2 separate regions of the Homo sapiens genome follow, and region 1 is reported to be linked to region 2. Evidence: microRNA targets listed by miRTarBase, many of them from high-throughput screens and not tested one by one. Region 2 holds a microRNA gene; the other region holds the end of a gene's coding sequence.
Evidence for each region. Region 2 holds the annotated microRNA hsa-miR-302a-3p (UAAGUGCUUCCAUGUUUUGGUGA, at 2,363-2,385, opposite strand). A microRNA usually pairs through its seed, bases 2 to 8, with sites in the 3' UTR of a target mRNA and lowers its output. Matches are read on the target gene's strand: a 7mer-m8 pairs with bases 2 to 8, a 7mer-A1 pairs with bases 2 to 7 and ends in A, and an 8mer does both.

Region 1 (7,129 bases), not on the chromosome of region 2:
CCAGCAGGGAGCAGAATGAATGTGTTGCTCTCCTGGACAAGGCTGCCACTGCACAGAACATCATGAACCCCAAGAAGGTCACCAGGCTGAAGGAGCAGGCTCAGAAGAATGCCAGGAGGCAGATCAAAGAGTGTGAGAGGCTCCAGGAGAAGCACCAAAATAAGATGGCCCACACCTACAGCAAGGAGGAATCCGGGACTCTCTCTTCTTCCAAGGGTACCTTCTCCAGATCATCCCCTTCAAATGCTTCTGCTCCTGGCACATTCGGGTCACTATCTAAGGGCATTAAAGACACTTTCAAGATCAAGTTCAAGAAGAACAAAGATACAGCAGAACAGGTGGGGAAGGAAGGCAGAAGTGGGCAGAGGAACGTGATGGAAGTGTTCAGAGAGGAAGAGGAAGACTCGTTCTCAGGGGACTTCAAAGAGAAGCTCCAGTTGTCAGCAGAGGAGGACGGCAGTGTGCACCATGAATCCATTCTCAATCGTCCAGGTCTAGGAAGTATTGTTTTTAGAAGGAACAGGATATCGAGTCCTGAAGACATCTCAGATAGCAAGAGAGAGTTTGGTTTTAAACTGCCCAGTGAATTGCTTCAAAGACAAGGAGCATCAGAGGCTGATGAGGGTGCAGCTGATGAAGAGGGAGAGGAAAACGGCCTCAAAGATGATCTGCCGTGGGATGACGATGAAGTGGAGTGGGAGGAAGATGTGGTCGATGCCACGCCCCTGGAAGTGTTCTTGCTGTCTCAGCACCTGGAAGAATTCCTGCCTATCTTCAAGAGAGAGCAGATTGATCTAGAAGCTCTGCTGCTCTGCTCTGATGAGGACCTTCAGAGCATACAAATGCAGCTGGGTCCCAGGAAGAAAGTTCTGAATGCTATCAACAGGAGGAAGCAGGTGCTTCAACAGCCTGGGCAGCTGGTCGACACCAGCCTGTGATGGAGAGTTTTGGCCTGGAGCATTGGGGTGATGCTGTGGCCCGCTGGCAGCACTCCAGGCGGCACCCCCTCTTTACCCAATGCCAGACCACTGGGAATGGATTCTAGGGCATCGGAAATGCCTACCTGAGAGAGAGACCCAAACTTTACTCTGGGAGGTAGGCTATGCCCATCCAAATAAATCTCCATGAGAAACTTGAGGAGACTTCATAACAAGAATCTGGCATTTCTCTTCAGTTATCTTATATGTACATATAATTGTTTTTGTGGTTGTTTTGTTTTGTTTTGTTTTGTTTTTTGGAGATGAAGGTCTCAGTCTCTTACCCAGGCTAGGGTGCAGTGGTATGATCATAGTTCACTGTATTCTCAACCTCCTGGGCTCAAATGATCTCCTCCCACCTCAGCCTCCCAAGTAGCTGAGACTACAGGTTCACACCCCCCACACCTGGCTTATTTTGTATGTTTTAGTAGAGGTGGGGTCTTGCCACATTGCCCAGGCTGGTCTCAAACTCCTGGCCTCAAGCAATCCTCCCACCTCAGCCTCCTAAAGCACTGGGATTACAGGTGTGAACCACCGTACCCAGCCTATCTTTTTGATACTTTTGAATAAAGAAAGGGTCATATGCATGACAGGAAAATGAAAGAAACTTCCTTTACTTTTCTATCTCTGGATTTAAAATTATAATCTCATCACATTATCCTGCTGCTTGCTTTCCGATCTGTGTAACCTGGGAATTCCAATTCTTTTTCTCTCCTGAGATCTATGACTTTGCCTAGTGGTAGAGACTAGAGTTCTTTCCTGGCCTGCGGCTTGATGCCCAACTTAAATGCATCTAACCCTTTAACAAATGTGTACATGTTTACAAGTAATGGAAATGCGTCTATAATACTCCTGCCTGAGAATAGAGACAGAGTGGTGGTGGGGAGAGTGAAGAAAGAGATAGAATACAGGTGGTACCTGTTGTGGACTGAATTGCGTCAAATTCATATGTTGGAGCTCTAACCCCTAATGTGACTGTAATTGGAAATAAGACCTTTAAAGAAGTGATTAAGGTTAAATGAAGTCATAAGAATGCAACCCTAATCCTGTAGGACTGGTGTCCTTTTTTTCCCTTTTTTTTTTTTTTTTTGAGATGGAGCCTTGCTCTGTCACTCATGCTGGAGTGCAGTGGCGTGATCTCAGCTCACTGCAACCCCCGCCTCCCAGGTTCGAGCACTTTTCATGCCTCAGCCTCCTGAGTAGCTGGGATTACAGGCGTGCACCACAACGCCTGGCTAAGTTTTTGTATTTTTAGTAGAGGCGGGGTTTCACCATGTTGGCCAGGCTGGTCTCAAACTCCTGACCTCAGGTGATCCACCTGCCTCGGCCTCCCAGAGTGCTGGGATTACAGGCATGAGCCACTGCACCTGGCCTAGGACTGGTGTCCTAAGAAGAGGAAGAGACACTTAGGTGGAAGGCACACAGAGAGGCCACGTGAGGACACAGTGAGAAGGTGGCCGTCTGCAAGCCGAGGAGGGGGCCTCAGGAGAAACCAACCCTGCAATCACCTTGATCTTGGGCTTTCAGCCCCCAAAGGTGTGAGAAAATAAACTTCGGTTGATAAACTGCTGTTGTTGAAGCCATCCAGTCTGTGGCATTTTGTTATGGCAGTCCTAGCAGAATAATACTGTCCTAAGTAAGAGGGTTGGGGAGGAGACCAAGAAAAATACAGAAAAAAAGTCTGTCCAACTGCAATTGATGAGTTTTGTAAGGGTAAACACCTAGTGAAACTTAAGGGGAAAAAAAACTAAGTTCTTTGGAGGGAAGATTTGATTGTCAAAGGAAATTTCACATTTTCATGCTTATTATGTACACATGGTTTATTTACTGTTGTCTGTCACCATTGCCGCATATCTGAATATGTGTAGGTTCCACGATAGAAACTGACAACACTTGGCTCATGCCTGTAATCCCAGCACTTTGGGAGGCCCAGGCAGGCAGATCACCTGAGGTCAGGAGTTCAAGACCAGCCTGGCCAACATGGCGGAAACCCGTCTCTACTAAAAATACAAAAATTAGCCAGGTGTGGTGGCGTGTGCCTGTAATCCCAGCTACTTGGGAGGCTGAGGCAAGAGAATTGCTTGAACCCAAAAGGTGGAGGTTGCAGTGAGTTGAGATTGCACCACTGCACTCTAGCCCAGGCGGTAAGAGAGACTCCATCTCAAAAAAAAAAAAAAAAAAAAAGAAAAAAGAAACTGACAACACTGCTGCTGACATTTTTTCAATGGCAATCCCAAATTCAAACTGAAACCCCACTGAAGAGCTAAGCTTCATTAGATCTCTACAGGCTGACTTACATCAAGTGGAATTTACTGTTGATTCTGGGTATAATACAGAAACAGCTGTTTATCTTCAGCTTGCTTTCTGATGCACATCTGTTTGGGTTACTTCAAGAGGCATCATGGAGGATTCAAGTTTAGGGAGGATACAGATGCTCAAATCTGATGAACAATTGGCTTATTCTTCCTCAATGAATATATTCAGAAAGCTTGTTAGCCATTGAATAAACACGTTGCATTAGGGGATGATTGTTTACAAATACCTTATCTTGTGGAATAAACTGAAGTTGTGCTTTCCTTCATTAACGTGCACAGAAGCAGTTGGCAAATAGAAAGTGCTCAAAAAAGTTTGTAGTCTGTGCCTGCCACTATTATATTTCATCATCATAGATGCCAGAATCCCCTCTTCACCTATTGCCCGGAATCTGCCTAATGAGATATTTGCTCCACCCCCTGCTGTAACTACATCATAGCAAGAGAGCCATCACTCAGGTTGGTAGAAATGAACTTGAACATTGACTCTCATCCCTTTTTAGGAGATATTTGCCACTAGGGGTCTCATCAGGTACCTCTATGCTCTTCTTAGGGGTTCTTTTCTTTTATGATTGACAGAATTAATAGGTGAGCGTTCTCCAAAGTTCTCAGCATCAAGGATATAGTCTCTTCGTCACAGAGTATTGTTATATAATAAAAAAAGGTTTATACCATGTTATAAGATGTTATCAATGTTCTAAGAATTCCAGATCTTTCGAACTAAATACCAACTACAGGGGCTAAGAGAAGATGCCAGAGCAATACAAAGGCCTTGATAAGAGACAAAGACAAGAGGATTATGAGCCAGGATGAGCTTCAAGTACTCACTGATCTCAGACCTCCATCTCTTAAACTAGATGCTTAGAGTAGCTCAATCCAATATCTGGTCACCCCTACCACCTCCTGGCCCCTCTTTTCCCCCTCTATGTAGCTTGACATAAAAGTCAACAAGAGGGAAAAGCAGCTGGGAGCATTTCACCGAAGAGGAGAGTTTGAGAAGTTATAGTGTGGTAAATGTGTATTGTGCTTATATTTCAGGCCATTGTGTAGTACAGGTCAGTTATATGCTCAGAATTCCTAAGTCCAAGTTACCAGCCCAGACCATTGCTTTGGGCACCAAATACTTAAGCCCAAATCTAATCTGACATCTCCTCTCACATGTCTCACAAGTACCCCATACTCAGTGTGTCCAGGACTGAACCCATTTTCTTCCAGGTTGTCAGTTCTCAACTTGGATGATTTTGCCCTCTGTCTCCTAGAGGACATGTGGCAATATCTAGAGACATTTTTTGATTGCCATGATAGGGGAACAGTGGTGCAACTGACATCCAGTGGGTAGAAACAATGGGTGCTAAACATCCTAGAATGTACAGGACAGCCCACCACCACAATGAATTATCGAGACCCAAATAGTGATCGTGCTCAGTTTCAGCTGCATTAAAACATGCAGCTCTAAATCTTCATTTTTCATAAATGGAAAATTTAACCCAATACTTCTTTTCATCACCCAATTGGTCACCAGGCCCTTTCAACTTTTCAATATGTCTCAGAGCTAAATCCTCTTTGATGTTTGCAAGATGACCTATTGGTTCCTGCCCCCAACCATCACTCACTGGATTGCTGTAAGTATCCTTATCTGTCTTTAATTCATTCTCCACAAGGCTGGTTGAGTCACGTAATCTTTTTAATATGTAAGTCTCTTGTCACTTTCTACTTTACTGTTGCTTTTTTTTTTTTTTTTTTTTTAAGACGCAGTTTTGCTCTTGTTGCCCAGGCTGGAGTGCAATAGCACGATCTCAGCTCACCGCAACCTCAGCCTCCTGGGTTCAAGTGATTCTCCTGCCTCAGCCTCCCAAGTAGCTGGAATTACAGGCATGTGCCACCAAGCCTGGCTAATGTTGTATTTTTAGTAGAGACAGGGTTTCTCCATGTTGGTCAGGCTGGTCTCGAACTCCCGACCTCAGGTGATCCACCTGCCTCAGCCTCCCAAAGTGCTGGGATTACAGGCGTGAGCCACTGGGCTCAGCCACCATTGCTTTTCAAACTCTCACCACCACACAGAAGGCCTGCATGATTAAAGAGCCCTATTCTCTCCTCCAAACCTCTGGTCCCATCTCTGACCACTCCTCTCCCTGTCCCCTAATTTCAGCTATACTAGATTTCTTGTGGCTTCCTGAATACATGTCTCTCATATGCCTGTGCCTTAGCATACCATCACCCTTCTGCCTGGAAAAGTCTTCCTCCATATAGCCATCCTCACTGGGAGACATACCCTCTCTCTTTGCCCCTAGTCTGGGTTGAGTAGCTTCCTATCTGTGCAAGCTCTCTTTGTTTGCCTCTCCAGAACTTCTCTCTACTATTTTCCAACCTACTTTGTGTCCCAGGTGGTTGGGCTCTGGACTGCATCAAAGGGCTCCCTTGCCCTTGGGATCCTGGTTGGGTCTGGCCAATGGGAGTTACTAACAAGATACCAGAAGGTGGGAGAAAGAAAGATTGAGGCATTTATTCTACCTGTTTCTTCTTTTCAGGGCAGCAGCTGCCTTCATCTAAGCTCACCTCTCCCATCTGGCAGCCCTCTGCTATAGCTCTAGTTGTTTCTGGGTTTCACTAACTGCTCTTTCAAGCTTAGCAGTGGTAGTGATTTCCTACTATTGCTAACCCTGGGGTGCTTCTTCCTAAACAGTCTCTTTATTCTCTTCAATCACACCTTTTGAGTGTGGCATCTACAGACAGTTCCCCACTTACAATCGTTCAACTTAAGATTTTTTGACTTTACGATGGTGTGAAAATGATACGCATTCAGTAGAAACTGGTAAGATATTCTCTCAGGATGCTGGGCAGAGGCAGCGAGCCACAGCTTCCAATCAGCCATGTGATCACCAGGATAATCAATTGACAGTGAACAGTGTACCGTGTTACCAGATGATTTTGCCCAAATGTAGGCAAATGTAAGTGTTCTGAGCACATTTAAGGTAGGCAAGGCTAAGCTATCATGTTTGGTAGGTGTTTTCTATGCATTTTTGACACATTTCCAACTTTTTTTGAGACAGGGTCTTGCTCTGTCAACCAGGCTGGAGTGCACTGGCACAATCTCGGCTCACTGCAGCCTCTGCCTCCTGGGTTCAAGTGATTCTCCTGCCTCAGCCTCCTGAGTAGCTGGGACTACAGGTGTGCACCACCACACCCAGCTAAGTTTTGTATTTTTAGTATAGACGGGGTTTCACCATATTGCCCAGGCTGGTCTCGGACTCCTGACCTCAGGTGATCCGCCTGCCTTGGCCTCCCAAAGTGCTGGGATTACAGGCATGACCCACCATGTTCGGCCACATATTTCCAACTTTTGATGAATTTATTGGGACACGACTGCATCATAAGTCAAGGAACATCTGCATTTCCTGCAGGGACCCTGAACCATGTTCCTGTAACACCAAATTATTGTAATTTTTTTTTTTTAACATCTGTCTTCTCTTCGAGGCTGTGTTCTCTGGGGCTGAGGACTACTTTTCTGTTGTATCTTAGTAAGCTAGCACAGGGTTATGATAGGGGCTCTTGCGAAAAGAATGAAAGAAAAGATATATGAATATTCTCATCATTCCATGCTCTTCTCTATATATCCTTTAGGGTAGTGACCATCAGGATTCCTCAGAAAGACTCCATAGTCACTTGAGATATGCAGAATCAGATCATGTGGGTAATGTGGGTATTTTGTTTCAGCACAAAGACCCCTGTCCAGACAGTCTGGCAAATATGATAAACTTTTGGCTAAACCATCTGGAGCATGAGTCCTTCCCAGGAGGAGTATGGTCAGGAAAACAGAGCCATGCTTTGCTGCTGACTTAT
Region 2 (7,000 bases):
TTTCAAATAGCCAACCTTGTGCTTGTTTCTAATAGGATGGGATCCAGATGTCCTCTTTGAATGTCTGGGTATTGCTAATAATTTGTGTTCAAATCTTAATCTGCAGTTACATACACTAAAATGTGTCATTTTAGGTCGCCAAATATGCAATGCCATTTAGACCCTCATACAGTTTTTTTTTGTTTGTTTTGTTTGAGTCTCTTTCTCCCAGGCTGGAGTGATCTCAGCTCACTGCAACCTCTGCCTCCTGGGTTCAAGCGATTCTCCTACCTCACTCTCGAGTAGCTGGGATTACAGGCGTGCACCACTACACCCAGCTAATTCTTTGTATTTTTAGTAGAGATGGGGTTTCACTATGTTGGCCAGGCTGGTCTTGAACTCCCCCATCCACCCGCCTTGGCCTCCCAAAGTACTAGGATTACAGGCATGAGCCACCGAGCCTGAGGGCCTGAGGGGCAGGTTAAATTGTACCAAATTGAATTAATCCTGCTGATACACTAACATATTAACTTTTTCATTTTCTTTAGATGTTGATATATCACTACTTGTGTCTTTTAACAAAATGAAAAAATTGACTACTGATGGGAAGTTAATTGCCAGAGCATTGAGAAGTTCAGCTGTTGTAGAGGTAAGAATCAAGAATAACTACTGTTTATATTTATAGTTTATAATTATAAAGAATGTTAACGTAATGATTATTATATGATTATAGCTTACAATTATAAATAATATTAGTTTTATTAATGTAATATACTATTTTAAAGCTTGATTTGGAAGGCACCAGAATCCGGAGGAAAAAACCTCTGGGGGAAAGACCAAAGGATGAGGATGAACGCACAGTGTATGTGGTAAGCTTAAGAACCCGGGTCCCCAGTCAGAAACTGGCACAGAAACAATATAATTAAGTTAAAAATTTATTGACATTCTGATTGTGAAAAACTCTAATATTGCTTTTAATTTATAATAGGAGTTACTTCCCAAAAATGTTAATCACAGCTGGATTGAAAGAGTATTTGGGAAATGTGGCAATGTTGTTTATATAAGTATACCACATTATAAGTCTACTGGAGATCCAAAGGGATTTGCGTTTGTGGAATTTGAAACAAAAGAACAAGCAGCAAAAGCAATTGAGGTAAGTCCAGATCCTAAAAAAAAAAAAAGAAAGAAAAGAAAACAAGTATTAAAATAGTAACTTTTGCAATCATTTCAGTTTCTTAACAACCCACCAGAAGAAGCACCAAGAAAACCTGGCATATTTCCTAAAACAGTGAAAAATAAGCCCATTCCAGCCTTAAGAGTTGTGGGTGAGTATTTTTCAATATTTAAATAGGTGTAGTTGAAGTAAGATGAACTAATAATGATGGCACTTTTACAGAAGAGAAGAAAAAGAAAAAGAAGAAGAAAGGCCGAATGAAAAAGGAAGACAATATCCAAGCCAAAGAAGAAAACATGGACACAAGCAACACCAGCATCAGTAAAATGAAAAGATCCAGACCCACATCTGAGGGCTCTGACATTGAGTCCACTGAACCCCAAAAGCAGTGCTCAAAGAAAAAGAAAAAACGGGACAGAGTTGAAGCATCTAGCTTACCTGAAGTCAGAACAGGGAAGAGGAAGAGAAGCAGCTCTGAAGATGCAGAATCCCTAGCTCCCCGATCAAAAGTAAAGAAAATTATTCAGAAAGACATCATTAAGGAAGCATCAGAAGCTTCCAAGGAAAATAGAGGTAAAACTACAAGGTTTTAATTAGATAAAACTAATTAATTTTAATTAATTAGTTTTTAATTAATTAGGTTTTAATTGGCTTCTGTTTCACCCATTTCACAGCCCCATGTCTTAACGGAGAGCTTTTTTATTTATTTCAAGATATAGAAATCTCTACTGAAGAGGAAAAGGATACTGGAGATCTAAAAGATAGCTCTCTCTTGAAAACAAAAAGGAAACATAAGAAAAAACATAAAGAGAGACATAAAATGGGAGAAGAAGTTATACCATTAAGAGTGCTATCAAAGTAAGTCTGTGGTTTAAATTCTGTCATTGGCTTAACAATCCATCACCATTGCTAAAGTGCAATTCCAATTTATATTCAACAGAGTTGCATATTAGCAACAGTAATGGCCTGTAGCCAAGAACTGCACACAGTGTGGGCGTTAACGCAATTGCTGATTAGGTAGGAACCACCACACTCAAACATGGAAGCACTTATTTTTGTCATGTCACAGCAAGTGCCTCCATGTTAAAGTAGAGGGGGCCCCTTAACAGATGTAAAAATACAAAATAAAGCTTAAATATATGAGCTGCGGTCAATACAATAAAGTTATTTTCTAAAAAAATAATAAAAATGTAAAAGGAAGACTTACCATCACCAAAACATGGAAGCACTTACTTCTTTAGTTTCAAAGCAAGTACATCCACGTTTAAGTGGTGGGGAGCCCAGTCTTGGAAAAAGTTAGAATCCTTTAACCTGTAACAAGCTTAGTAACCTTAAAACACAATAACAAAAAAATTTTGTAACAAAAGGTGTGCTGGCTTGGAGACACCTCCACTGAAACATGGAAGCACTTACTTTTGTTTCACACAGCAGGTACCCCCATGTTAAAGCAAAGGGGATCCCTTCAAATGAGGTTAGCGTGTTCTATTTTGGAGAAGTAAATTGGATTCACTCCTACTAAAACATGGAAGCACTTACTTTTAAAGTCACAGAAAGCACTTCCATGTTAAAGTTGAAGGGAGCCCACCCAACATACAACTTCTTTGGACTTCAGAGTATTTAGAGCTGAGGAGAAAGAAAACAAAATGGCATAACTTTAGAAGAAAAAAATTTTTTTACCTTCCTGAACTAGTTCCCAAAGATTCGTGTTCTCCTCCAGAAGGGTAAAAGGCAGGGACTTCAGCCACTTCTATTTATACTATTCTTAACTCTTGAATTCCTTTTGCCTTTTTATCTCAGAGAATCATTACAAGGGCCTTTTGTTATTTTAATGTATCAGCTCTCAGGGAATGTATGATCCTGGGTGGGTCTGGATCCTTTTTTTTTTTTTTGAAGTATACAGATGTCAATGTTAACAGCTAAAACCATTACCACAAGATATCTTCCTCTTAAAAAAAAAAAAGAAAAAGAAAAAGAAAATCTCCTATCTGCTTGTTTGATGGCATAGATTAGGGTAACAATGAGTGCTCCCACTGAGCCGAGAAAGGCATTGTGTTTCTATCTGGAGGAACTCTGTTTGAAGAAGCATCTACATGTTAAATGTATGTAAATAAATAGATTGCTTCCACGGGGTGTTTTGTTCTACTTAGAAATTCTTTTTGATTCAAGTAAATACTAAGGAATGTTATCTCTCAAATTGGAAGCAGTTTAACAAATCTTTAATCTCGCCCTTTTCCCACAGAGATGACTGATTTAGTAAATGTTACTAGTTAAGGAATTAATGCTAAAATTTTACTTTTATAAATTAAAATACTTCAGACACTCAAAAATTTAATTGGCAATCTTAAAACATTTAATCTGAATATTGGGGGAAGAGGAACTCCCTTAGCTTATTTTGCTAAATGTCTTTAGAACCTAGGAAATATTTTGAATATGTGTTTAAAGAAACAGGAAAGTTGGTGGAGGAGTTGCTCCAAGTCATTGTGAATGTATATATTTAGATATTTCCCTATTTACTTTTTATATTTAGTCATCTGTTATCACCATTTCTTTCCTTGTAGGAGCGAATGGATGGATTTGAAAAAAGAGTATTTAGCGCTACAAAAAGCTAGCATGGCTTCTTTAAAAAAAACAATATCCCAAATAAAATCAGAGTCAGAAATGGAAACAGACAGTGGAGTACCTCAAAACACTGGAATGAAAAATGAAAAAAGTAAAGATCACTGATAGTTTTGACAACATTATAATGTACTTATATATGTAAATGCTATCTCTGAGTTGTTATAAGATAAATTTTAATTTTAAAAAACTTGATTATTCTATTTCATTATTAGAACAATTCTTGATTTGTTAAGTTATCCAGATGTGTTACTTACTCTTGATATAAGAATATTTAAAAGGCTCATTTAAAACAATTTTTTAAATAACCTGAGTTTTCTCTACAGTTTTCATCAAGCACATGAGTGCAGAGTTTGCAGACTGAGCAAGTTTGTAGGAATGAAGATTGTAGTTTCTCACCTGTTAATTTCATTCTGTAGTATGCACCACAAGCAGGAACAAGTTAAAGCAGAATTCCTATGAATTCAAAATTAGGATACATTTTAAATTCTCATTTCTTGTAAAAATAAATGTTCACGTTTGAATAATAATGTATTTAAAACACAGTATCCTTTAACTTTTTTTTAACTTTATTGAGTAAAAATTTACTGTTCCTTTGTTCAGGGAGAAGGGGCAAATTTAAAGGCTTTACGAATGCTCTTCTAGCAGTAACAATTTGCATGTAGAATAATAAAACTTTCTGAGTTTTATTCATGGTATTTTGAAATAAGCAGTATGACATATAACCTTTAATTGTTTACTTTAAAATTAAATACGTTTTAAATTATTTAAATCTGCCTCAGGAATTATTCTAAGGTAGTCCTCCTAAGTATTAAATTGTTGTTAAGTGTAAGAGATTTAGTCCTGGTCTTTTTCCTTTTCTAATCAGCAGCCAACAGGGAAGAGTGTCGCACCCAGGAGAAAGTTAATGCAACAGGACCACAGTTCGTGAGTGGAGTGATTGTGAAGATCATTAGCACAGAGCCTCTACCTGGCAGGAAACAAGTCCGGGTAATGATTTTGAGCCCCTAGGGTATTTGTTCCTTTCTTCTCTTATTATTTCCCTGTGTGAAAATGTTTTGAATATGGAAGATAAAACAAATCAAGTTAGAATTTGTTTCCCTATGGTAAACTACTGTACAGTTTTAATTCCATGGTAACTCTTAGGTTTAATTTTGAAGCAAAATCTAGAGGCTGAAATTCCTCACTAAATCTATATGTAAGCACAGTTTAAACATCCTTCTCTATAGGAAAATTGTAACTTTTGCTTATTTTTATTGGCACTGATTTTTTTTGTATTACCTATGTGCTGATTATCTTTAAAATTTTAATTATAGAAAAGTAAAATATTTTTGAAAACCTCTTAAAATTTTTCACGCATGTGCCAAAAAACCCATACTTCTATATAATTTACGCTACAAATTGCTGTACATACAGGTTTATAATTTTTTCGCTTTATACAGTCTATCTTCTGTAGCCTTTTATACCACATTGGTAGCAATACTTTCTATTAGGGAAATTATATACTTTTAGGTGAGAGTACCATATCTTATTTACCCTTACCCTGCCTGTCACCCATTTAAGTGAATCCTTTTCTTTTTAAAAAGTGTGAAATGCTCTGTAACATACCACATATTTTAAGTATTTTCTTATACTGACATTCATCATCACTTAGTATGTTGTTTTGGTTTTACGTAGACTCATCAGTCACAGGTTTTAACTTGAATACCATTGAGGTGGTGGTTTGTTTATCTGTAAGCCCTCCTTATCTGAAATACTGTCCTACAATCCTATAGCTGTCACTAAGAAACAAATTTTGATCCTCTTTGCAATGTTGGTGAAGGATTTGGCCAAATCCAAATTGCTATTACCAGCTTGCATTTCAGGAGACAGCTGAAAATTGAGGGATGTAAATACTGCTCTGATTAATCAGATTGCAAAACATTTAATACAAAAATTGCTCAGAGTTATTTCTAATCAACTCATTAAATAACTTCTGTTATTTAAAGGGTAACTTTATCAATTACAAATTCATCATTTATGATCATCAAAATCATAAAATCAATCCCTGCATTAATCCAGTTAGTAGTTACTTACATTTTGCTGAAACAAAAACTGAGCTGTGTTGGTTACAACTGTCTGTGACTTGCCCATGTGATTACCAGGCTAATTTGTCATTCTATGGGTTTTAAATTCTAAGGGTTTTAAATCAAGAGATTAGCCTGACATTATAATGGATATTTAGTATATATCTTTTGAGTTGTAGTAATTGAATATGCTCAAAAGTCAGTTATAAAACTCATTACTACTACTGAATGCATTCAAATTTCAACAATACTGAGTTTTTTACTTGCTTTATATCTAAATTTGGTACTAATTAACTAGGTAAAGAAGTGGGAAGGACTAGCAAGTGTAAGTCTCTGCAGTTTTTTTTTTTTTAATTTGGCAAACAGTTACTAAATGCCTGTTTTGTGATAGTTGCTGAGTGTTGGGATGAGTTAAGATCTAGTCCCTGGCTTCTAGAAACTCACAGATTTTATTATATATTTTTTATTATTAACTGATAAACTTTTCTTATTCTATGATGAAATAATACTTCCAGGTATTGCTCAGTTCTTTCCGTAATTCAAACATCTAAAAATTCAACATCTGAAAGTAATGTAAATTAGTTATGTCTGAAATTTTAGGTCAAAACGAAAGGGAGGCAAGATAAATAAGATTTCCCCCCCCCCCCCATTTAGCAATCTCCAGTTACTTCTTTAGCTTTATGAATGGAAGTTGATGAATTAGGAATTAGTGTAACATTCCTGCATAAATGCATTGTATACTCTGTAAAACCTGCTGTGAAAAAAAAAGTTGATTAAGAATGCAGGAATCTGGTTAATTTGCCCTCACAGCAGGCAGTGTAGGTAAAACTTTTCCTTGCTGGGTGACCACAACTTGTTTAGAAGAGGTTACTTAGGTATTTTTTTCAGAAAGTAAGAGCTCTTGAACAATGTGGAAATCTAGTATTTTAGGTTTGGTTAAACTGTTTTTCATGAGTTGTTATTAAAAGTGGAATGATTTGTACACATATTTTAAAGTCATAGTGATTTTCTACAGGTGAGTAAAAACAAACCTCCCTTAATCCTTTTTTTTTTTTTTAATTTTATTCCTTATACTACTCCCAGATGTGAACGCTTCCTGATTTGGGGGTTGGGGGACACTATTTCTGCTTTCTGCTCTATAAATCTGTTGTCCTTATAGAATATT

Region 1: the mRNA of ANKS4B is a reported target of hsa-miR-302a-3p. Seed matches in the 3' UTR shown: 7mer-m8 at 2,150-2,156 and 7mer-m8 at 2,892-2,898.

What each region holds. Positions count from the first base shown.
Region 1 is chr16:21,249,883-21,257,011 of GRCh38, forward strand. It overlaps ANKS4B (ankyrin repeat and sterile alpha motif domain containing 4B), which reads left to right. Exons shown (of 2, transcript NM_145865.3): 2 at 1-3,968. The coding sequence ends at 938. Among named protein-coding and RNA genes, the nearest start is that of ANKS4B, 20 kb to the left of the region's middle.
Region 2 is chr4:112,645,824-112,652,823 of GRCh38, forward strand. MIR302A (microRNA 302a) reads right to left here and starts at 2,428; the gene lies at 2,360-2,428. It overlaps LARP7 (La ribonucleoprotein 7, transcriptional regulator), which reads left to right. Exons shown (of 13, transcript NM_016648.4): 3 at 528-628; 4 at 765-848; 5 at 968-1,132; 6 at 1,211-1,304; 7 at 1,376-1,726; 8 at 1,867-2,011; 9 at 3,712-3,863; 10 at 4,638-4,759. It overlaps MIR302CHG (miR-302/367 cluster host gene), which reads right to left and starts at 4,228. Exons shown (of 3, transcript NR_146092.1): 1 at 4,169-4,228; 2 at 2,690-2,776; 3 at 897-1,145. It overlaps MIR367 (microRNA 367), which reads right to left and starts at 2,118; the gene lies at 2,051-2,118. It also overlaps MIR302D, MIR302C and MIR302B. RefSeq lists an enhancer at 3,048-3,770.